Linked DNA regions of Homo sapiens. The main gene of each other region encodes a partner of the protein of the gene in region 2 in a complex. Each region holds a gene or a part of one and is shown on either strand. Other genes may lie near its edges.

What was found. Proteins that work in one complex are often made in the same cells at the same time.
Region 1: MED24 (region 2) and MED13 share a complex: the UniProt entries of both Homo sapiens proteins name them as parts of the mediator complex.
Region 3: MED24 (region 2) and CCNC share a complex: the UniProt entries of both Homo sapiens proteins name them as parts of the mediator complex.

Annotation. Positions count from the first base shown.
Region 1 is NC_000017.11:62,062,279-62,069,825, reverse strand, and holds the start of MED13 (mediator of RNA polymerase II transcription subunit 13), read left to right. Parts: upstream 1-4,547; 5' UTR 4,548-4,620; coding exon 4,621-4,686; intron 4,687-6,524; coding exon 6,525-6,759; intron 6,760-7,547. UniProt on the Homo sapiens protein: Component of the Mediator complex, a coactivator involved in the regulated transcription of nearly all RNA polymerase II-dependent genes.
Region 2 is NC_000017.11:40,022,950-40,030,865, forward strand, and holds part of MED24 (mediator of RNA polymerase II transcription subunit 24), read right to left. Parts: intron 6,911-7,916; coding exon 6,799-6,910; intron 6,020-6,798; coding exon 5,877-6,019; intron 4,998-5,876; coding exon 4,960-4,997; intron 4,697-4,959; exon of another isoform or gene 4,593-4,696; intron 4,517-4,592; coding exon 4,434-4,516; intron 4,086-4,433; coding exon 3,907-4,085; intron 3,798-3,906; coding exon 3,698-3,797; intron 3,461-3,697; exon of another isoform or gene 3,383-3,460; coding exon 3,207-3,382; intron 447-3,206; coding exon 182-446; intron 1-181. UniProt on the Homo sapiens protein: Component of the Mediator complex, a coactivator involved in the regulated transcription of nearly all RNA polymerase II-dependent genes.
Region 3 is NC_000006.12:99,565,661-99,573,265, reverse strand, and holds the start of CCNC (cyclin-C), read left to right. Parts: upstream 1-4,605; 5' UTR 4,606-4,738; coding exon 4,739-4,770; exon of another isoform or gene 4,771-5,700; intron 5,701-6,227; exon of another isoform or gene 6,228-6,348; coding exon of another isoform or gene 6,349-6,368; intron 6,369-7,605. UniProt on the Homo sapiens protein: Component of the Mediator complex, a coactivator involved in regulated gene transcription of nearly all RNA polymerase II-dependent genes.

The DNA of each region.
Region 1 (7,547 bases), about 22 Mb from region 2:
TGATTGGCTCCTATTTTACTTGGATTATCTCTTTTAATCATTGCAACAACTCTGACATTTAGGTGCTATTATTACATACACATTCAACAAAGGGGTAAATTGAAGTTAGGGAGCTAGCAAGCATGGAGTTCTGCTTGTTTGCTTGCTTTTTGAGACAGGGTCTCACTCTGTCACCCAGGCTGGAGTGCAGTGGTGCAATCTTAACTTCCCAGGCTTAATCAACCTCCCCACCTCTACCTCCCAAGTAGCTAGGACTACAGGCACGTGTCACCACGCCCGGCTAATTTTTTTATTTTTTTTGCAGCGGGGGGTTTCGTCATGCTGCCCAGGTTGGTCTCAAACTCCTGGGTTCAAGCAATCTGCCCACCTCAGCCTCCCAAAGTGCTGGGATTACAGGCATGAGCCACCGTGCTGGGCCAAGTATGGAGTTTTGACCCCAGTTGGTCTAACTGTTCAAGTGCCATTATAAGCAAGATTATGAGCTGCTTGTATATGCTGTATTTTGTCAATACATGACCTGACACATACTAGATGGTTAATACATGTGGGTAGTTAAGTGGTCATATAGTATGATCTCAACCATGTAGGAAAAAGATACATAGGGAAAAGTCAATACATCAAAATGTTAAAAAGTGATTAATTATGAATGGTAATGATACGGACTTTTTTGGGTAATGTACATTTAAAATTTTCATCTTTACGCTTTTATGTATCTGCCAAACTTTTGACAATGTGTGTGTAATGTTTTTATTTATTTATTTTGAGATAGAGTCTCACCCTGTCACCCAGGCTGGAGTGCAGTGGCGTGATCTTGGCTCACTGCAACCTCTGCCTCCCGGGTTCAAGCAATTCTCCTGTCTCAGCCTCCCAAGTAGCTGGGACTATAGGCATGTGCCACCACGCCTGGCTAATTTTTGTATTTTTAGTAGAGATGGGGTTTCACCATGTTGGCCAGGCTGGTTTTGAACTCCTGACCTCAGGTGATCCACCTGCCTCGGCTTCCCAAAGTGCTGGGATTACAAGCGTGACACAGCACACCTGGCCGACAATATGTGTGTAATGTTTTTAGTTATTTCCATTACTTTTTAAAAATCCCATATAACTCCTGCCCCCACACATACACAGCCTCCCTCATTATCAACATCCCCCACCAGGATGGTATACCCAAAGTCCGTATTTCCATTACTCTCTTTTTCTTTTTTTTGAGAACGGAGTCTCACTCTGTCGCCCAGGCTGGTGTGCAGTGGCGCGATCTCAGCTCACTGCAAGCTCCGCCTCCCGGGTTCACGCCATTCTCCTGCCTCAGCCTCCCGAGTAGCTGAGACTACAGGCGCCCGCCTTTTTGTGTTTTTAGTAGAGACAGGGTTTCACCGTGTTAGCCAGGATGGTCTTGATCTCCTGGCCTCATGATCTGCCCGCCTCGGCCTCCCAAAGTGCTGGGATTACAGGCGTGAGCCACTGCACCCGGCCTCCATTACTCTTTAAATCACACAAAATGTCATTTTTACCGAATGTAAGTGGTTACTGATACGTTCTTTGTGGGCTGAAAATATTTATTTCTTCTCTTTCCCTTCTCCCAATGATTCCATTCCCCTCACAACTGGGATCCCCCCCATTCTAATCTGCTTCTCCATTCTCTCAGTCCTGTCTTTCTCTCTCTCTCCTGCTCCCTTCTGCGATCCTCCATCAGACTTTTTCTTCTGGGTCTTCCTCCCTTCTTCGCTTCTGTCTCCTTGTCTCCCTCTTCTTTTTGAAAAGATTGACATTCAAACAGAAAGGTCAATCAAATGTTACCTCCTACTGGTAGGTTTCAGGTATATTCTACCTGCCATTGGAATCCTGAGGATGGTGCTCAAGTCAGGGGGTGGGGGCAATGGGAGGGCAAGACTTCTAAGGAGAATGGAGACCCCTTTAGATGTGAGGAGGGCATTTCAGCCTGAGGAAAGCAGCGGAACAAAGATCTGAGGAGTTTTTCAGGGAACGGGAAATGGGCAGAGGAGCGCTTACCTCATTGGATCTGGGGATTGCTGTCTCCTGGTGCTGGCACTCGGTTATAAAGGATGCCAACCTTAGTTGATTTGAGCTCCTGGATTGAATTAGTCCTGGTTGCATAATTGACTTTGATATGTGGACTTTGGGTTCGAATTAGGTTTAATAAGATTTAACTGCTTCAAAGGGCTTTATAAGAATTCATTTTATCCTTCAAATCTGATTTCAAATGCTACCTACTTTATGACAACTTCTCTAAGTTTGATGCTCTTCTTCTAGTGCACTTACTATGCCATAGTAGGTACATACTTTATTCAAGCAATTACCCCCATTGTATTTTACCTTATTCTGTAGGAAATGTTTCCTTTAGTGCCTCTCTTCAGGAATCTTGAGGGACAGGCAGGTATCTTATTCCTATTTGTATCCTAGGCCTAGCACAGAGCAGGAACACACTCAATTGAGCCAGCAGGTTCTCAATGATTTTTAAAATTACATTAATAATTAACATTAAGTAAGCACTGTGGCAAGCACTGTATCTACATTGTTTCATTCACCAGTCATTTTAGAAGAAAAGTACTTTTATTACCCCCATTTTACAATAACCGAGAGAAAGCAAAATTAATTTGATCTAAGGTCAAATATGATCTAAGACTAACTAGTGAGGGGCAGAACTTTTTCTCCAGGCTTTGGGCTTCAGATCTGGGCTCTTCACCACCACAGATGAACAAGTGGATAAATGAGGACTTCTTTTCATTCCGTGGCTGAAGAAGTGACATGGAAGAGTCTACCATTCATTTTACAGATACAATTATGTATCTGTAATACATAATACATAATTATGTATCTGTAATACATAAAATTACAGTAAGTCCTAACTCACTGATGTTTCTAACTTCTGAATCATCTTTTTCTTCTTCTTTCTTTCTTGCAATCCTAAAACCGTCAGAGAAACTGTTTTGAACTCATATTGAAGTGTAACCCATCCAAGCACTGGGTGTTTTATGGGAAAGAGAATAAACCTTTTGTTTGGTTCTTACTTCTTACCACCCATTCATTTGTAACTATACAAATATCAAGCACCTACTGTGTGCTAGGAACCTTTTTTTAGGCACTAGAGAGACAGAAGTAAACAACAAAAAAATAGTGAGACCTTTACATACACTAGTTCTCCTGCTCGTCACAATAACTATATGAGGTAATGATGACAACAATAATAGTTAACTCTTAACAGTGCTTATCTGTGCGGGGCACTGGGCTACCTGCTTAATTTGTATTAACTCATTACAATAAGCTTGTGGGGTAAGGGATATGTTTTCCCCATTTTACAGATGAGTAAAGACACAGAGCAGGAAGTGATTTGCTCAAGCTTGGAACCCAGGCAGTGTGGCTCTAATTCCCAGTCTATTAACTACAGGGCAATATTTTGTTTCTTAAATTTATATCTTCATATCACAACTTTTAGGTTGAGGAGTCTTATCCCCATCCAGATCATCTGACTCCCAAATCCAGAGGTTTGCACCTGCACCCCAGCGGCCTCGCGAAATAAATGAGAATGTCTTGGAATTTTTGCCAATACTTTCTCTTCCAAAGAACTCAAACTGATTTCCACGTAATTCTCACTGATTTGTGAAATGAACCTTCCTGGACTGTAAATTTCCCCGCAAAGAGAGGGCCAGGGCCCCGGGTCGTTTTATACTGGCCGGGGCACCCAGCAGATGGCGCTATGTTAGTGGCCACCAGCTGGCTGCCCCGTCCCCCGAGCTCACCGCCTCCGCCGAAAGCTTCCCGGCCCTCCCTCGCTCACTTCTCTCTCCCCCTCCCAACCGAGCCCGGGCCCACGTGACCTCAAGGCGGCCAATGGGTGAGCAGAGAGGGCGAGCTGGTCCCTGTGGCCGCCATTAAAGCGAAGGGAAAACCCGTGAATTCGGATTAAAGGGGGAAAAACACCGCCCGCTGGGCCCACAAAATGGGGGAGACTACGGCGTCCAGCCGGTGAGGCCACAGGAGGGCAAACTTTAGGCCGGCTTGGCCCAGGAACGACACGAAGACAGAGCCAGAGAATGGTCTGAGCCCGCAGACGCCGCCACCACCTCCGCCGCTGAGGAGACTCTGGGCTTAAGGACATCGCCGCTGCCGCGCCGGGGGCCTGGGCTTCTCTCCCGGTTCTCGCCCTTCCCGCTCCTGTGCGGGCGCCTCTCCGCCCGGGAGAACCGTCCTGGGCTTGGGCTCTGCCGTCTCGGACTTGATTTTGATTATTTATTGTGTAATTTATTATTTTTCTTGTGGTAGGGGCACACATCCCCTCCGTCCCCCAGAGAGGGACGAGCGTCTGCGGGATCCGCAGTCCGGCCCGCCAGGCGAGCGCGGCGCGGCCCTCCCGCCTCCGGCCCTCGGCCCCGGGCGGCTGGGTGCCGGCCGGGCGGCGGGGGCTGCTCGCGGCGGCGGCGGCGGCGGCGGCGGCGGGGGGGTGGGTGGGGAGGGCGGGCGCCCGGCGGCCTCCTCTTCCACCGCCCCCCCAACCACTACCCCCCCCCCGGCCCTCCCCGGTGTCTGTGTTTCTCTCTCTGGTCGGAGGCGGCGGTAATGGCGGATGGTGGGTTGTGGCGCCGGCGGCGGCTGCTGTGAGGGACGATGAGTGCCTCCTTCGTGCCGAACGGGGCCAGCCTGGAAGATTGTCACTGTAACCTCTTCTGCCTGGTGAGTGCCGGGGCCGGCGGGCGCCGAGGGAGGGGGGCCGCGAGGTGCGCCCTTGGGCCGTGGGGGAGGGGGCCGGGTCTGGTCCAGATGCCCGAGTTCCCGGGCGAGGCCCAGCCGGAGCCGGCGCCCTGCGAAGCTCCGCGGCCAGCCCCGGGAGGCGGCGTTCGCTCTCCTACGGTCCCGGGCTCTGTTTAGGGGAGTGTTGGCATTTTTTCTCGTCTTGTTTCGGACTCTCCTTCTCACCGTAGTCTCGTCCTCAACTTGAGCTCCTTATCTGGCAGGACAGTAACCTTTCCCTCTTGTCTTGCTTAACTGTTGCTTTTCTCCTTATTGGCCCTGTATCCCTGCTTCACACTTTACATTATTGCCCCTGCTCCCCACCGCCTTTATGTCTTACCCTTTTAATTTGGTTTCCCCATGTAAACAGGACCCCAGAACTTAAGCCCTAGAAACCTGTCTTGGTTTTACATTTTTTTTGTATGAGTCAAACTAACGCCAGGTTAGTTTCTTTCTTGGGTGACTTAAGATCTCTCTGTAAAAGCCAGTAGGTGCCATTTCATATGTTTTCTTTTTAAACTTTGAAAACAGTTTGCCATTTTTGACAATTTCTAGCCATCTTGCTTTTATTAGAACATGATGTTTTTGTGAGAGTGAAGGGGGCTAGTGGACGAGGTGCTGTGGTTTTGCACTGTTTCTATATTTATTGTGTTTTGGTTGCTTTTTCAGAATGTTTTGAGCAGGCTGCTCCCTTGTTTGATTGAAATGGAAAGTCGAGAGAAGCGGGATGTAGGGATGATCATTGTGTAGGTTAGCCCAGGTCTGGTAACATCCAACAGTTAAGGCTTTCAGAAGTACCAACTGTTGCAAATAACTTGTCCTGTATGGGACAGTAGCTGAGCTTCATCAATGACTTTAAGTTTGGGTGACTTTACTTTTTCATTTTCTCCTTTGTGCTATGAGAAATATTAAGAGTATATGATAGGTAAGTGAGTTAAGTGGGAGGAGCACAACTAGTTGGCAAGTGTAAACTGCCAGTCATGTATCAGCAGTTTCATTTTTGGCACCTTATGCTTTGCTCCTTTAAGTTAGATTAAATTACTGAATTCCTCTTGTCGAATTTCTTAACGCCCATGCTAAATTGAGATCTTTAATACTCTATCCTCGTCTACAGTATGTTTTTCTTTTCAATGTCCATTAATCAGCATCTCTTCACATGTAATAAGACATACACCAGGTTTTATATTTCTATCTTATCCAACTCAGTCTATTTTTGGTACTTTTAGGATCAGTTCTTTGAAGATAGACTAGCACAAATCTGACAGTTCTTTGTGAGTAGCTATTTGACTTTTCCGACAGGGGTGTGTGTGAAGAATTAACATAGATTTTTTCAGAACTTGTTCAGATGTCTTTTCATTAGAGACGTTACTTCTGTAAATGTGGAATAAAAACCCATGATAGGGTCTTTAATAATTGATTTTCAGTTAAAAGTTTGACACCAGTGAACAAATGTGACCAGTTAGGACAGAGAAAAATGTACTCTGTTTGCATATTGAAGTGTGTGTCTATATTTAACATCATTCAGTTTCTTCTGTTTCTACTTGGAGTACATATTTGCTTGCTATTCAGTGACATGGTGGTGGTAATTTTTAACTGTATTCTTCTCCCTAAAATTCTTGGTTGTTGAATTATAAAGTCTTTTTTTGTTCTAATTTGCAGTCAATATCTCAAGCATACATTGAAAAATTGTAATGTCTTAATGAAATAAGAGACATCATATTGAGTACTTTTGACTTTGAGTGAATATGCAGTAATAAAACTTAATGCTTTCTTTCCTTCAGGCTGACTTGACAGGAATTAAGTGGAAAAAATATGTATGGCAAGGCCCAACTTCTGCCCCTATTCTGTTTCCTGTGACAGAAGAAGACCCCATTTTGAGCAGTTTTAGTCGCTGCCTTAAGGCAGATGTACTTGGTGTTTGGCGGCGAGATCAAAGACCTGGAAGAAGAGAATTGTGGATATTTTGGTGGGGTGAAGACCCCAGTTTTGCTGACCTTATTCACCATGACTTATCAGGTGAAAGAAACTTTCCATTTCTAACTAATGATATAGCAACATTGTATACTTCTCCCAGAATGTCATATGTATTACAAATTAAGTTTGTTTTTGTGGGAGACTTAGGAGGCCAGATAAAAATTCAGCTTCATTGTTTTATTTCACCATGATTATTTTATTTTACTTAAATTATCCATGTTGTTATAGCTGGGTTTTTAAGGCGTGAATGACTTTCTCCTTCCACCACCTCTCTTCTTAATTTCTCACAGGTAGTTAGGGCCCGAAGAAGGCATGTTACATTAATCTAAAAAAATGGAATCAGGAAACAGAGTTCCTAACAAAGTCGTGTAATAGTTTAGAAGCCAGATGTAACTTTTGAGTCACTTCAGCCACTGCTGAAGTTGAGTCTTTTGCATTGAATAGGCAGATGATTCTAAAAGTACTGGAAATGTAACTATCCGTGTGTGTGTGTGTGTGTGTGTGTGTGGTGTGTGTGTGTGTGTGTGTGTTTTAAGGCATGTATTTTGTTATTGTCATTTGTGCTATTTGATTAACTTATGAAGGCATATGTTAATTTAGTTATTTTTGGAAAGTGACTCATATACTGTTCTGTCAAACATAATAAGAGAAAAGTGCCAACTTGTTTAGCTTTTATGGGACATGGGATCATAATCTAAAAGGTTACACAAACAATTTTATTGTGAGCAAATCAATGTGATTACTTCCTTATTTTCTTGACTTTTAGGACCAAATGCTACTTTAGAAAGAGAAACTATAGCTTTTCATATAATTACTGAAGCTTTAAATTG
Region 2 (7,916 bases):
CCCTCAGGCTGAATCCCAGTCTCTGGCCAGAGCTCCCCAAGGAGGCAACTCTGAGGCGAGGCATTCCGGGGAGGCCACCTGGCTCACGGCAGCCTCTCAGGGAAGCCTGGCAGACCAGGCCAGGTGTGGGGAGCCAGGGGACAGGACCCATGTCGGCCCACAGCCACTCCAGCCCAAGTACCTTAATCAGGTTGTTGCAGAACCAGTAGACGCCGCCCATGTGCAGCAGGGTGTCAAAGATGTGGATGGAGCGGCTGTCCACCCAGCCCTTCTCCAGCACCTTGGCAAAAATGTCCGTCAGCACCTCTTTGATGGGCCGCTTGGGGGGCAGCAGGTTCCAGTAGGGCATTGTGTCCACCCCGGTGGAGGGAAACTTGATCTGCGTGGCTGTCTGCTGCAGCACGTCGGCACACATGCGCTCCAGGATCGAGTTCATGATCACCACCCTGGGGGAGGGCCGAGAGAACCTGAGGCTCAGGTGCCACTGTAGGGTGGGGAGGGAGAGGAGGGAACACCCATGCCAGACTTTCCCTTGGACTTAGGTTACGGAAATCTCCCTGAGGCATTAACCCAGTTTTGCGCTGGGGGACGGTATACCCCGGGGTGACCTGGCCCCTGCTCTGCTCCTGGCAGGTCTCTCACCTGCAGGACACAAAGCCTATAAATAGGGACTGGGGAGGGACTTTCCTCCCCCTGGCCATTCCAGCCAGATATTCACATTTTCTTTTATTCTCCAACTTCCCCCATCCCCCAGGCCTGGGCCCTGCCAACCTGCCACATAAATAAACACAATCACTTCCCCCTAGGCTGAGTGCTTGGGGGTCCCCGCCCAGCCCTGGCCTCCTCCCAAAGTAAACTGTTCCTTCCAGGAGAGGCCCAAGGGCTGCCCCACAGGACTCTTCCCGGCCCCTGGTAGCTGGGCAGATAGAAGTGTATATCCAGGAATTTTCTCATGGAAAGAGGCTTCGGAAGTGAATACAGACCCGGGCCGAGTGCTGACTGTTCCTGGAATGCAGGGTGGCTCTGGGAAAGTTGCTATGACCTTTAGAGCCACTTTTCCCACCTGCACAATGGAGCCACAGACTTCTCACTACCCCTTACCCAGATAGGATTTAGGGTGCTTAGAATGGGTTACACCAGAGCAAAAGCTCCCTACTTGGTAGGGCGGGGGGGAAGGTGGTGGAGAAATGAGAGAAGAAAGGAAAAAAGGAGGAGGCAAGGGGAAAACGAGATGTGCTTTTCCAGACCGTCCAAACCTCATTCAGCTCAATGCTTCCCCTTCTCCCTATTAAGACATCCTCAGGCCCGGTGCGGTGGCTCATGCCTATAATCCCAGCACTTCAGGAGGCTGAGGCGGGAAGATCACCTGAAATCAGGAGTTCGAGACCAGCCTGGCCAACATGGTGAAACCCCATCTCTACCAAAAATACAAAAATTAGCCGGGTGTGGTGGCACATGCCTGTAATCCCGGCTACTCGGGAGGCTGAGGCAGGAGAATCTCTTGAACCCAGGAGGCGGAGATTGCAGTGAGCCTAGATAGTGCCACAGCACTCCAGCCTGGGTGACAGAGCGAAACGCCGTCTCAAAAATAAGTACATAAATAAATAAATAAAGACATCCTCAACGTTGCCATAAAGACATGGCAACACCCAAAACGTATTAGCTGGTAAACACCCATGTTCACAGCAGCACTATTCACTATAGCCCAAAGGTGGAAGCAACTGAAGTGTCCACTGACAGAGGAGGGATCAAGATGTGGTATAGCCACACAATAGAGGTTTCTTTTGTTTTTGTTTTGTTTTTTGAGACAGAGTCTCACTCTTTCACCCAGGCTGGAGTGCAGTGGCGTGATCTCGGCTCACTGCAACCTCCGCTTCCTGGGTTCAAGCAATTCTCCTGTCTCAGCCTCCCAAGTAGCTGGGATTGCAGGCGCCTGCCACCACTCCCTGCTCATTTTTATATTTTTAGTAAGGCCAAGGTTTCACCATGTTGGTCAGGCTGGCCTTAAACTCCTGACCTCAAGTGAGCCACTCACCTCAGCCTCCCAAAGTGCTAGGATTGCAGGCGTGAGCCACCACGCCCGGCCCACAACAGAGTATTATTCAGCCTTAAAAAGGAAGGAATTCCTGTCACGTGCTACTACATGGATGAGCTTTGAGGACACCATGCTGAGTGAAGTCAGTGAGTCACGAAAAGGCAAGGACTGTATGATTCCAGTTAAATGAGGCATCTAAAAAGTAGTCAAATTCAGCAGGGCACGGTGGGTCACGCCTGTAATCCCAGCACTTTGGGAGACCACGGTGAGAGGATCACTCAAGGCCAGGAGTTCAAGACCTGGCAATATAGTGAGACCCTGTCTCTACAAAGACTAGAAAAATTAGCCGGCTGTGGGCCTGCAGTCCCAGCTACTCGGGAGGCTGAGGCGAGAGGATCACTTGAGCCCAGGAATTTGAGGTTGCAGTGAGACTCACTCTGATCTGGGCAAGGGTAAGACCTTGTCTCAACAACAACAACAACAAAAAGTATAAAGTAGTCAAATTCCTAGACACACAAAGTAAAATGGTAGTTACCAGGAGCTGGAGGGAGGGGAAAATAGGAAGCTGTTGTTCAGTGGGTATGGAGTTTCAGAGATGCAAGAAAGTTCTGGAGACCTGTTACACAACAGTGTGAATATACTTAACACTACTGAACAGTACACTTAAACATGGCTAAGATGGCAAATCTTATGTGTTTTTTACAATTAAAAAAAGCAAACAACTTATTGGTTGGGTGAATGAACTCAACGTAACTGGTCACCAGGGAAGTCCTCCAAGCCCCTGAAGAGCCAGGGCAGGAAACTGTCCTAAGAGGTAACTGAGGGTGGGGCATGGCCTGTAAAATCTACAGACAGGTTCCTAGCTCCTAGACAGTCACACAGCTTTGTTCTTTTGGGAGCTAGTTGTCTAGAACTTGAGTCTCTGCGGGCAGACCCTGTTTAGGGTCTGCATTTCTGACAACACAGCAGGTGCTGGCATATAAACGCTTCTGCCACAGAGACACAGTACATGTTTGCTGAGTCAGATGAGTGAATGCATGAATAGGAAAGTGAGTGAGTGATCAAGTAGCGTGTTTGCGAAGGTCAGAAAAGAGAGGGGTGCTTGTTATTGGATGTGCTGACTTCTCACAACACACTTGAAGGGTCTGAGAAGGGAAGGCAGGTTACCGACCTCTCATTGTAGAACTGCAGGGTGTTCTCACTAAACAGTGGCCCTGCCAGCTGGCGGATCATCTGCAGCGACTTCTCACGCTCATCCAGCCCCAGCATCCGGACGTGGGCCACAAGCCAAGCCACAGCACACACCGCCAGACTGCATACCTTCCCTTTGATGTTATCAGTGATTTTCTAGGGGAGACGGAAAGGTGATGGGCTACCATCTATCTCCCTTTCTTGAGCCAACATCACCTTCTCAGCCTCTGCGGGCAGCTAAGTGCAGCGGGTGGAGTCCCGGGCCACATTCCACACCTCTCTCCACAAGTTTGATCTTCCCAGAGCTACCTGGGCCAGAGGGAGTAGCTAAGACAACGATTACACAAAATATCAATATCAAAACATGAGCTCCTGGATTAAAGGTCTTCTTGCCCTTACGAAATATAACAAGTCATCACTGGCTGGCTCTGTGTCTCAGGGGAGCAAACGCTGCTGGGAAGGCGGGGCTACCTGGATGGACTCGAAGGCCAGGACCCCATTCTCCCAGGCATTGAGGATTTCCAAGATGGCGGCTGAGATGCTGAGACAGGCCTCATGCCACTTCATCTGCCTGCGGGTGTGCAGAGAAGTCAGCACAGGGGAGCAAGGAACGGGCTCAGGGAGCGGGTCTTGACCCTGCCCCCACCGCCACCCTTGGAGTGGGCGCCCGGGCCACTGACACTAGCTTCATCTCCGAGGAGTTGTTGAGCAGGGCCACCAGGGACTCCACTTTGGTGGAGTCGGGGCGGAAGCAGGGGTGGTCAGGGTTCAGGATCTTGCCCTCCTCAGGCATGCAGGTCTGCATCCAGGTCTCGAAGAAGGGCACCTCAGCTCCTGTGCGCGACTCGGACAGAATCACCTGGGAAAGGGGAAGGGGGGCACCAGCCGAGTGGGGAGGGCGCGGCGCCTGCCAGCGCTGGACCTGGGGCTGCACTGTTTCCCGCCAGGCTGCTGCTCCAGCCCAGCCCAAAGACTGGGGACGAACTGGTCTAAGGGAGCCAGACGGGGGCAATGCTGCCACCTAGTGGTCAATGTGAACATAGGGCTGAAGGTGCCTCTACGGACTCCAGCCCGGGTGGGCACCTGGTTTCTGAGGCCCACAGAACTAACTGGCTGAGAGGCTGCGGGGGCGCAGGCAGTGAGGTGGGGAGAGTTCCGGGTTACCTCCTTCCCTTGAGCCCCCGTCCCGGTCGCTCCCCTCTCTCACCTCTGAACCATAGGTCTGGGCCACATGGCACAGCATGAGGAAGGAGATGTCAAACAGCAGGGCCCGGACGGAGGCCGGTTTGGCTGTGGAAGGACGGGAAGGCTGAGCTCCCAGACGAGGGCAGGGGGGAGCCCGTGTCTGGGTTGACAGGGATCGGGATTTGCCTCTAGGAAGGTCAGGGACCAAGTGGCTCCTTCAAAGCTCTGAGGCTCAGAATCCTTTTCTTGAGTCTCAACTGGAACATCATCCCTTCCTTGAGACCAAAGACCCCCAGCACCCTCTCCTGGCATACCTAACCAAGTCGTAAAGGGATGAGGGGGGGAAGGAGACACAGGGATGGTCTGGGAAGAATCCTTTTCCAGCATTATCCACTTTCAAGCTCTGTGGAAGCTTCCATTGGTCATGGCTCTGAGGAGGGAGCACAGCCTCCCCCTGTTGAGCTGGGGAGCCCTCCTCCCTCCCACACTCTCCCGCCACACCCCTCCTCAGGGCCCACTGGGCCTGCGGATGCACAGGGCTGACTTACTGCTTTCTTCGCTGCCATAGGTTGTGAATTCATTCAAACTGAAAGGAATGGAGACAGGCTGCATTGACCAGGGCATGAGCTGAGCAGTAGCTGGGCGCTGGGGCTACACATGTTCAGAGAGCGATAGCTAGAGTCTGAGTTACTGGTTAAACTTAAAATGAGACACATTGCTATAGAAAAAAGGTTTTTGTGGTTTTTGTTTTTTGTTTTTTTTTTGTTTTTTTTGAGAAAGAGTCTCGCTCTGTCACCCAGGCTGGAGTGCAGTGGCACAATCTCAGCTCACTGCAACCTCCGCCTCTGTTCAAGCAATTCTTCTGCCTCAGTCTCCCAAGTAGCTGGGATTACAGGTGCCCGCCACCACACCCGGCTAATTTTTTGTATTTTTAGTAGAGACAGGGTTTCACCAAGTTGGCCAGGCCGGTCTTGAACTCCTGACCTCAGGTGATCCGCCCACCTTGGCCTCCCTAAGTGCTAGGATTACAGGCGTGAGCCACCGCACCCGGCCAGAAGGATTTTTATTGTTAGAAGATTTCCAAGGCCTAGAGAATGGCTCACTGAATGGAACCATGTTCTATATATGTCAAATTCCAGGGCAATCAAAAAAGGCAACAGAATTTGAGAGCCCCTTATTAATAACTGGGCATACTTGGAATTCCTCCATGCCCAATGTTCAACACCTCAACCCTTACCCTCATCTCTTTACCAAACATGTCCACTCCATCCTCAGCTGAAGAGAAAGGAACACTTAGGTCGTGAGAACAGGCCCTTCCTCCAAGATCTCCAGCCAGGATGCTCTGCCTAGGCCCGTGGGTCTCTGGATGAGACCCAGACCCAGGCACCTGACTCCTACCCTGCTACCTCCTCCCAACGCGCAGCCTCCCTGCACGCCCTGGGGTCAGGGGCTTGGCCTTCCTCACTTGATGAATTTCCGGGCGAAGGATTTCAGCTTTCCAGTGGCGGCGGCGGCAGCCAGCAGCAAGTCCAGACTCTTCCCGGACAGCATGTGGCCCAGGACTCCCAGCAGTCCCTCCGGTGACTTAGAGTGGTCTGCATCCATCGTCTGGGGACAGGACAGGAAATCAAGTCCTGAAGAACACTGAAGACCCCCCACCCAAGATACAGCCTAGCCACATTTTCTCTCTTCACAACCTGGAATGTAATCTACATCTTTCTGACTTCAATCTGGAAAATCATTCCTAAAACCCACCCCTGCTCTCCGATCCATCCCTCTCATCTACACTGGCATGCAGGTGGTAAGGTTGGAGTGGGCAAGGTCACGGCTAGGATCTTCTCTGTCCTTTCCTTTTTTAGACAGAGTCTCGCTCTATCGCTGAGGCTGGAGTGCAGTGGTGCGATCTTGGCTCACTGCAACCTCTGCCCCCCAGGGTTCAGCGATTCTCCTGCCTCAGCCTCCCAAGTAACTGGGATTACAGGCATGCACCACCACACCCAGTGAATTTTGTGTTTTTAGTAGAGACTGGGTTTCACCACGCTGGCCAAGCTGGTCTCAAACTCCTGACCTCAAGGGATCTTCCCACCTCAGCCTCCCAAAATGCTGGGATTACAGGCGTGAGCCACCGCACCCACGTCTCTGTTGTTTCCATGTGAGATGGCCTAAGTGAAAGCGCCTACTGCAGTGCCTGGTGTACAAATGAAGCTCCCACGGGTTAGCATTCAGTGGTAGCTGCCCTTGCCTCCCCTTTCACTACCTCCAAAGCAACTATGTATAAAAGCTAAAGGAGACAGAGGTCTGTGGCCTCTGTTTATTTATCTGCAAGCAGATGGAGCACTGGAAAGAAGAAAGAGAAGACTGTGGTGGCCAGGGAAGGGCACACTCACCTTGAGGATGTTTGTGACAGTGGGCTCCGCCCGGAGGATCAGCTGGATGTTGGGCTGGATGTTGGCATTCTCTCCCGATTTCTGCTGGGGTGCGTGCTCTCGGTCCGCTTTGCTGTGGACATCACCAGTTGGCCAAGGAAGGGAAGAGGAATGAAGAGAAATTCTTGACACGTTCCCTCGTTCAAGCCCGGAAGGAAATGCGCAGAGGAGGTGGGAAGCATGTAAGAACCTCCGAGGTTGGGGTGAAGTTTATGGAAGCATAGTCAATGTTGCAATCACTGATTTAGCATTAGTCTTTTTTTTTGAGACAGGTCTCACTCTGTTGCCCAGGCTGGAGTACAGTGGCACGATCTCGGCTCACTGCAGCCTCTGCCTCCAGAGTAGCTGGGCGCTCACCACCACGCCTGGCTACTTTTTTGTATTTTTAGTAGAGACGGGGTTTCACCATGTTCTACTGGTCTCAAACTCCTGACCTCAGGTGATCCACCCACCTTGGCTTCCCAAAGTCCTGGGATTACAGGTGAGCCAGCACACCTGGCAATTTATCATTAGTCTTTTTTTTTTTTGAGACAGAGTCTCGCTCTGTCACCCAGGCTGGAATGCAGTGGCGCGATCTCAGCTCAGTACAACCTCTGCTTTCCGGGTTCAAGTGATTCTCCTGCCTCAGCCTCCTGAGTAGCTGGAATTACAGGTGCATACCATCGCGCCTGATTAATTTTTGTATTTTTAGTAGAGATGGGGTTTCACCACGTTGGCCAGGCTGGTCTCAAACTCCTGACCTCGTGATCCACCCGCCTTGGCCTCCCAAATGCTGGGATTACAGGTGTGAGCCACCGCAGCCGGCCTATCATTAGTCTTAAATGCTCTGAAAGCACATTTAAGATTAAAGGAAGATTCAGGATTTTTATTTATTTATTTATTTTTTTTTTGAGACAAGGTCTCACTCTATCGCCCAGGCTGGGGTGCAGTGGCATGATTTCGCCTCACCACAATCTCCGCCTCCTGGGTTCAAGCAATTCTCGTGCCTCAGCCTCCAGAGTAGCTGAGATTACAGGCACACACCACCACGCCCAGCTGATTTTTGTATTTTTAGTAGACATGGGGTTTTGCCATGTTGG
Region 3 (7,605 bases), on a different chromosome or scaffold from region 2:
CAAAAATGAAAAATAAAAAATTTTTTAAAAAGAATTTATTGAACTCATCCCATTTGAAAAGCACAAGGTAAGTTGAAAATTGGAAGGGACAACATTAATTTATTTCATCAAGTTTAAATTAGTGGGTAGTGAGGTCTGAAAAACAATACTCCTAAAATTATAAAGAAAAGTTTAAAAAATCATCAGCGAAAAAAGGCAAATCTGCTAGATAGCTCATGATCTTTTTGCATCCAGGTAAGCTGGGATATCTATGTATTTTAACAGCTTTTGTAAATTTATCTATTCCACTAGAGATATCCTTAAATGAAGTTAGCTTTTGGTTCAAGTCAATTTAATTCAACCTACATTTATAGAATGACCTCAAAAGCAATTTACTCTGAAACTAAGGAAGCCTAAGCTCCAGGCCTGTCACTTGCACAGCCCCCATGAGCACTGGGAGCTGCTGGGCATTTGGTGGAAGCAGAAACCAGGTCACAAACAGGAAGAGGTTCTATGTAGCACTTGTGGTAAATTGCCTAAAAGAGTTCACAGAAGGAAAGGACCTGAATTTCCACAGCTCTAGTAAGTTGTTGTGGCTCTTTTTGCATTCTAAATGTAGTACTCACTTTTCAACATAATTTTGTATCCGTAATGTTATATCAAAGCACATCCCCCAAATTCTATAAGAGATTTATACAAAGATGAAGGATCTCACTGTTTTGTAGGAAGAAGAGTGCAGAATTAGGTATAAAACAAAATTGCGGGGCACGGTGGCTCATGCCTATAATCCCAGCACTTTGGGAGGCTGAGGTGGGTGGATTAACTGAGGTCAGGAGTTTGTGACCAGCCTGACCAACATGGTGAAACCCCATCTCTACTAAAAATCCAAAAAAAAAAAAAAAAAAAAAAAATTATCTGGGCATGGTGGCAGGCACCTGTAATCCCAGCTACTTGGGAGGCTAAGGCAGGAGAATCGCCTGAAGCCATTGCACTCCAACCTGGGTGACAGAGCAAGACTCTGCCTCAAAAAAAAAAAAAAAAAAAAAAAGTGCTAGTCCAGTAATAGCAACAAAGTATAATAGGATCGCTTAGAATAAAACATTAGTAATACTAATTCGTTGCAGTATCCTTATCTTCTGGATGATGCCAGTTTCACAAAAACAAAACAAACCCTGAGAGAGTTGAAGAAATCCTGAATCTGTGAACTAGCCCATGGCCTGGAGTTTCTTAAGGTAGTGCCTTTTAAATATAAATATAAAGATAAATATATATATATTTTTATTTATTTTTTTTTTTTTTGAGATGGAGTCTCACTCTGTCGCCCAGGCTGGAGTGCAGTGGCTCGATCTCAGCTCACTGCAAGCTCCGCCTCCTGGGTTCATGCCATTCTCCTGCCTCAGCCTCCCGAGTAGCTGGGACTACAGGCGCCTGCCACCACGCCCGGCTAATTTTTTGTGTTTTTAGTGGAGACGGGGTTTCACCGTGTTAGCCAGGATGGTCTCGAGCTCTTGACCTCGTGATCCGCCCACCTCAGCCTCCCAAAGTGCTGGGATTACAGGCCTGAGCCACCGCGCCCTGCCAATATTTTCTATTGTGATCTGTAGTGTAACAGACAGTAGTGTTCATGAAGTATACTACACACTCGTTTACATTTCTCAGCTTTCTTTCTTTTTTTTTTTTTTTTGAGACAGAGTCTCACTCCGACACCCAGGCTGGAGTGCAGTGGCGCGATCTTGGCTCACTGCAACCTCCGCCTCCCAGGTTCAAGCGATTCTCCTGCCTGAGCCTCCCAAGTAGCTAGGATCACACGCATGCGCCACCATGCCCGGCTAATTTTTGTATTTTAGTGGAGACGGGGTTTCACCATGCTGGCCATGATGGTCTGATCTCCTGACCTCGTGATCTGCCTGTCTTGGCCTCCCAAAGTGCTGGGAGTACAGGCGTGAGCCACCGTGCCTGGCCTCAGCTTTCTTCACAGTTAAAAATTGGAGGCATGTGTCTATTCTGGTCAATGGCCCATGAGAGAAAGTGATTGGGTTGTTTCTGTTTCAAGGCTCTTAACCCTGGGTAAGAGTTAGTATGAGTCCTCTGTGCTCTCTCTAGAAAGATTTTAAACCTAGAAGTAAAGACCATCAAGATGGAGTAATTGAAGGATATATAAATATTACATTCTTGAAAATCTGGAAGACAACCACCAAGGAGAGCAAGCCGACTTTATGGGACTTTATGGGAGTGACGTATGACATGTAAAATACTTTGATGTTAAGCTATGCTGATTAGGGGTGGGGGTGGGGAGGTGTTACCACAATTTCACCTAGTGTAGCTTATCCAGACTAATTCATTCTTTTTTCTTTTTCTTTTTGGATTTGGAGTCTCACTCTGTTGTCCAGGCTGGAGTGCAGTGGCACAATCTCTGCCCACCGCAACCTCTGCCTCCTGGGTTCAAGCGATTCTTGTGCTGCAGCCTCCCGAGTAGCTGGGACTACGGGTGCACGCCACCACACTCCGCTAATTTTTGTATTTTTAGTAGAGACAGGGTTTCACCATGTTGGCTAGGCTGGTCTCAAACTCCTGACCTCAAGTGATCCGCCCATTTCGGCATCCCAAAGTGCTGGGATTACAGGCGTGAGCCACCACACCTGATGCAGACTAATTCTCACATACAAACAAATGCATTTCACATCTTGACTGTGTGTGTATATGTGTGTTTGTGTATGTATATACACACATATATAACTGAACCAAATTTAAATATAATATCCTTGCTATTTCTGATTTACCTAGTATTTTCTGTTCTATTTAGGAAAATGATTATACTTAATTTTACCACACCCTAATTGGTCTCCACCTACAATGTGAAAAATACTGTCTTAAGTTGCCTCAGATGCTGACTGTCTATAAACAAGTTTCTGGAGTGTCCAATTATTTAGAAAAATAATTATAAGTTTTACAATAAATGCATTGCTACAATGAAAATGAAATGGAAAATACAAAATATTTCGTCTTGTAAAATTAAATTATGGCTTTTTTTGCAGTATGTTTCTATTAGGTGCATACATGTACATACATGTGCATACATATATGCATGAATATTTTTAGATGTTCTGCAAAACTGTTGATTCCGCTGCTCTGTAAGTTTGCACTTTATCACTCCAAAATAACTCCATTAAGATCGCGGCCGAGATCTCGCCACTGCACTCCAGCCTGGGCGACAGAGCGAGACTCCGTCTCAAAAAAAAAAAAAAAAAAGATCGCGGCCGGGCGCGGTTGCTCACGCCTGTAATCCCAGCACTTTGGGAGGCCGAGGTGGGCGGATCACGAGGTCAGGAAATGGAGACCATCCTGGCCAACATGGTGAAACCCTGTCTCTACTAAAAATACAAAAATTAGCTGGGCGTGGTGGTGTGAGCCTGTAGTCCCAGCTACTTGGGAGGCTGAGGCAGGAGAATCGCTTGAACCTGGGAGGCAGAGGTTGCAATGAGCCTAGATAGCGCCACTGCACTCCAACCTGGGCGACAGAGCAAGACTCCGTCTCAAAAAAAAAAAAAAAAAAAAACCGCCTGATCCAGGCCGGGCCTGGTAGCCCACGCCTGTTAATCCCAGCATTTTGGGAGGCTGAGGCTGACGGATCACCTGAGGTTAGGAGTTCCAGACCAGCCTAGCGAAATCCCCTCTCCACTAAAAATACAAAGATTAGATGGACGTGGTGGCACGCGCCTGTAATCCCTGTAATCCCAGCTACCTGGGAGGCTGAGGCAGCAGAATCATTTGAACTGGAAAGGCAGAGGTTGCTGTGAGCCGAGATTGTGCCACTGCATTCCATCCTGGGTGACAGACCCAGACTCCGTCTCAAAAGTAAAAAACAGGCAGGGTGCGGTGGCTTACGCCTGTAATCCCAGCACTTTGGGAGGTTGAGGAGGGCGGATCACGAGGTCAGGAGTTTGAGACTATCCTGGCCAACATGGTGAAACCCTATCTCTACTAAAAATACAAAAATTAGCTGGGCATGGTGGTGCGCGCCTGCAGTCCCAGCTACTCGGGAGGCTGAGGCAGGAGAATCGCTTGAACTCCTGGAGGCGGAGCTTGCAGTGAGCCGGGATCGTGCCACTGCACTCCAGCCTGGAGACAGAGCAAGACTCCGTCTCAAAATAAATAAATAAATAAAGTAAAAAAAAAAAAGGAACACTTGATCCCTGAGAACAAAGTCATCTTCATTTATTTCTCTTTCCAATCACAGGAAAAATAAGTCACAAAACCTTGTACTTTATTACAATGCCACATTGTTCTGTTTTTGAAGTCCTGGAAGAGGTAATAACAGAACCCCGTATCTGAGCCACTTCGCCTAGGTTAGACCCACTCAGCAACTCCCGTGCTGAAGACAGGAGACCGAGCGGCTTGGGCCCCCGGCCAGAATTCTCAAGACGCTCTCGCGAGAGCCTTCCAACCGCCGCGAGCTCTCGTGAACACTAGTTCTCTTCAATCTCAGCACCTCCAAGGGTCAGCACCTCCCCTCCGGCTCCCTCCGCTACCGCGGGCCGGAACTTTTGTCGATAGGAACGGGTTTGCACAGTTGAGTGTTGTCGGCCGGCGTGAAGGAGACTAGGGGGCCATCCTCTTCCTTTCGCCGTCGCCGCCGCGGAGCGGAGTCGAGCCGAGCTGATTTGATCGAGGAGCGCGGTTACCGGACGGGCTGGGTCTATGGTCGCTCCGCGGGCCGCTCCGCCGGCTGGTGCTTTTTTATCAGGGCAAGCTGTGTTCCATGGCAGGGAACTTTTGGCAGAGCTCCCACTAGTAAGCGATCTTCCGTCTTCTCACCTGGGGCCGGTTTTTGGGGGAGCTGTGAGGACGGGGCCTGTGACTCCCCTGGGCCTGGATCCCAGCTCAGTTCCGAGTGCCGGGGTCCTCACGGGAGACCGCAGCGGTCAGAATCAAGATGCGCTTTTCTGAGGCGACTCCCCTCCCCGCCCCCAGCCCCAGTTTCGGGGAGGGAAGGATCTGTGAGGGGGAGGGGTGGGAGAGAGTTTCGTCTCCCGGGAAGGAACGTTTCGGAGTTTAATTTCGGATTCTTGGTTTAGCTAGGCCGCGGGGGGTCGGATAGAGTGGGCACAGGTACGGGAAGTGTGACTCAGCTCAAGACTGTGAGGCTACCTGTTCAGGACAGTTGTGGCGTGCTTTTACCTGGGGTTTCTTCGGGTGATCGGCGTCGTGGTCTTTTGTCATTCACTGTATATCTTGAGTGGATTTAATATTATGAGGAGAGGAGAGAGTCTGGCTTGTTTCTGCCTACTAACCGCTTCTTGCGCGTACTTTATGTCTAGATGGAGTTTTATATTGATAAGGTATAGGGCAGGTGCCCTCTAAATTTATCCATTTCATTAGCCTGTGCTTTATATTTTGTTTTAAAGGCCTATTTTTCCAGTGACTTTGTTTACCTGTTTCTTTAACCTTTTTCATGAATAAGTTCTTGTTTCTGTCAGTGACCATGTGAGAGCTAGAATAATATTAAAAACATTTATCCCTAAATACATTTGTTTAAGCAGGCAGGAAGGTGCGTTATGGGGTAAATTGAACATTTGAGTAGGCTTTCCACTGTATAGTTGAAAGATGAACAGAATTTGACAAGGTATCTTGGTATAATTTTTTATGCTAAGAAAGCATTAGTAAGTAATTTAAATTTCGATTCTGTGAATAGGATCTGTTCCTGATGTTCATTTTTTAGCCCTTTGCAAAGAGAAAAAAAGAAACAATGAACTCAGTAACCTATTTAAGGAAAAGCAGGTTTTCCTCTTGCTATAAAGTGATTCTGTGGAGATGACATGTTAAAGAAGCTTTACCACTGATCATATGTGTGTGTGTGTATATATATGTGTGTGTGTGTATGTATATATATATGTGTGTGTATATATGTTGCATTGTTTTCACACACTGAAATATTGCTTGGGCAAAATTAAAGTATCGAAAGTTTAGGTATTGGAGTTAGAGCTCCTGAAAAAAAAAGTTTAGGTAGTGGAGAAGAGATATTCTGATAAACTCTGAAAGAAGCTGAGAGAATTGACAAGTAGCTGACTGTTGATTTTTCAGTTTTTCAACTTAAAAAAAAAAGATCCTGCCTTATTTTCAATAGTGTTCTCATTATGCTTTCATTTATTCATAGCATTCTAAAAATATGTTTTCACTTTTCAAATATAAAATTATTATAAAGTTAAGTGTACTTCTTTGAAACTATTCTTTTCTCCCAATTCAAATAGTCCTAAAAGAAGGGACCACTTTGCCTTGCTCAAATCCCTTGAGCAGTCATGGAGTTTCTTATCTGGAAAAGGTAACGAGTGTGGAAGACAAGACAATTCTGGAAAAACAAACGAAAAGATTATGAAAGGCCATTGTCTTAGGTGAATTTGGTGAAAGAGGGCAATTGATATTAAATATGCTATATTTCATGCTTCTAAGATGCACGTTTTCACACTTTAACATCTTTGAAATCAGCATGGCAGTTGCTTTCATAGCATATGAAATAATGATGAATCCTAGATGTAATCTTAAATTTGATGAAATGCAGTATTTATAAAGTTTTTTAGTTTATTCTCCATACAGAGTTCTGTGAGGAAAACTCATAAAATGTTTGTGAAATTTATCTTTTTAAAAACATAAAATGACTCTGTGGGGATGAAATTAATTAGCAAACCACAGTGTAGTTGAGGTAGAACAAAACACAGTCTGTGACCAAAATGAACTAGAAGGGCACTAAGTATTTGCTGGTTAATTGAATGCATTAATGAACAAGTAACAAAAATAAAAACTACAAAACTAACTGTGGATACTTTATTGGTATCCACAGGAAACTGAAAATACAGTTACTTACTATCTAGAAAATAACATCATAATAGTACCATATATGGAATGTAACCAAAGCTTGAATGTATTAGAAAATCAATATCCTGAATAATTGAGAGATAATAGAAATATTCTATTTAATAATATTAAGAAGGAAACATGAAATAAACCTAAAGAAACAGAAAGACTTAAAATAGATAACGATGCTAATATATTAAAAGGAAAAAAATTATAAAAGCTAATTCTTAGAGTAAATAAAAACAGTAGACCAAACTACTGCTAGTTAAATCAGGGGAAAAAGGAATGATACAAAAATACAAAATTAGGAATGAGAAAAGTAAACCCAGGGGTACTTTTGGGTTATCTCCAGGGTTTTAAATTTGAAAGCCAAAGCAAGTTAAGAGTATTACCCAAGAGCTATGTGTTATTTCATGGGTAAATACTTTCCATCTTTCAAGAGAATCTCCTTTTGAAATTGTTCCATTTCATACAGAAAGAAGAAAAGCTTTCTAATTCTCTTTATGAAGCCATGATAACACAGAAAAATCTAGCAAAGGGAACACTAAAAACAGTCTCACTTTTGAATATTAATGCAAACATTGTAAATGAATTATTACCAAATGCAGTCTAACATTACATTGAAAGTATAAAACATGACATTGGATTTTATTATAGAAATATAGTCAATATTAAGAAATCAAGCAGTAAAGGTATTAAAAAACTAATACAATTCAACATTTATCCTTGACTAAAGCTCTTACTAAAACAGAAATAGGATGCTTCCTTAACATGAAA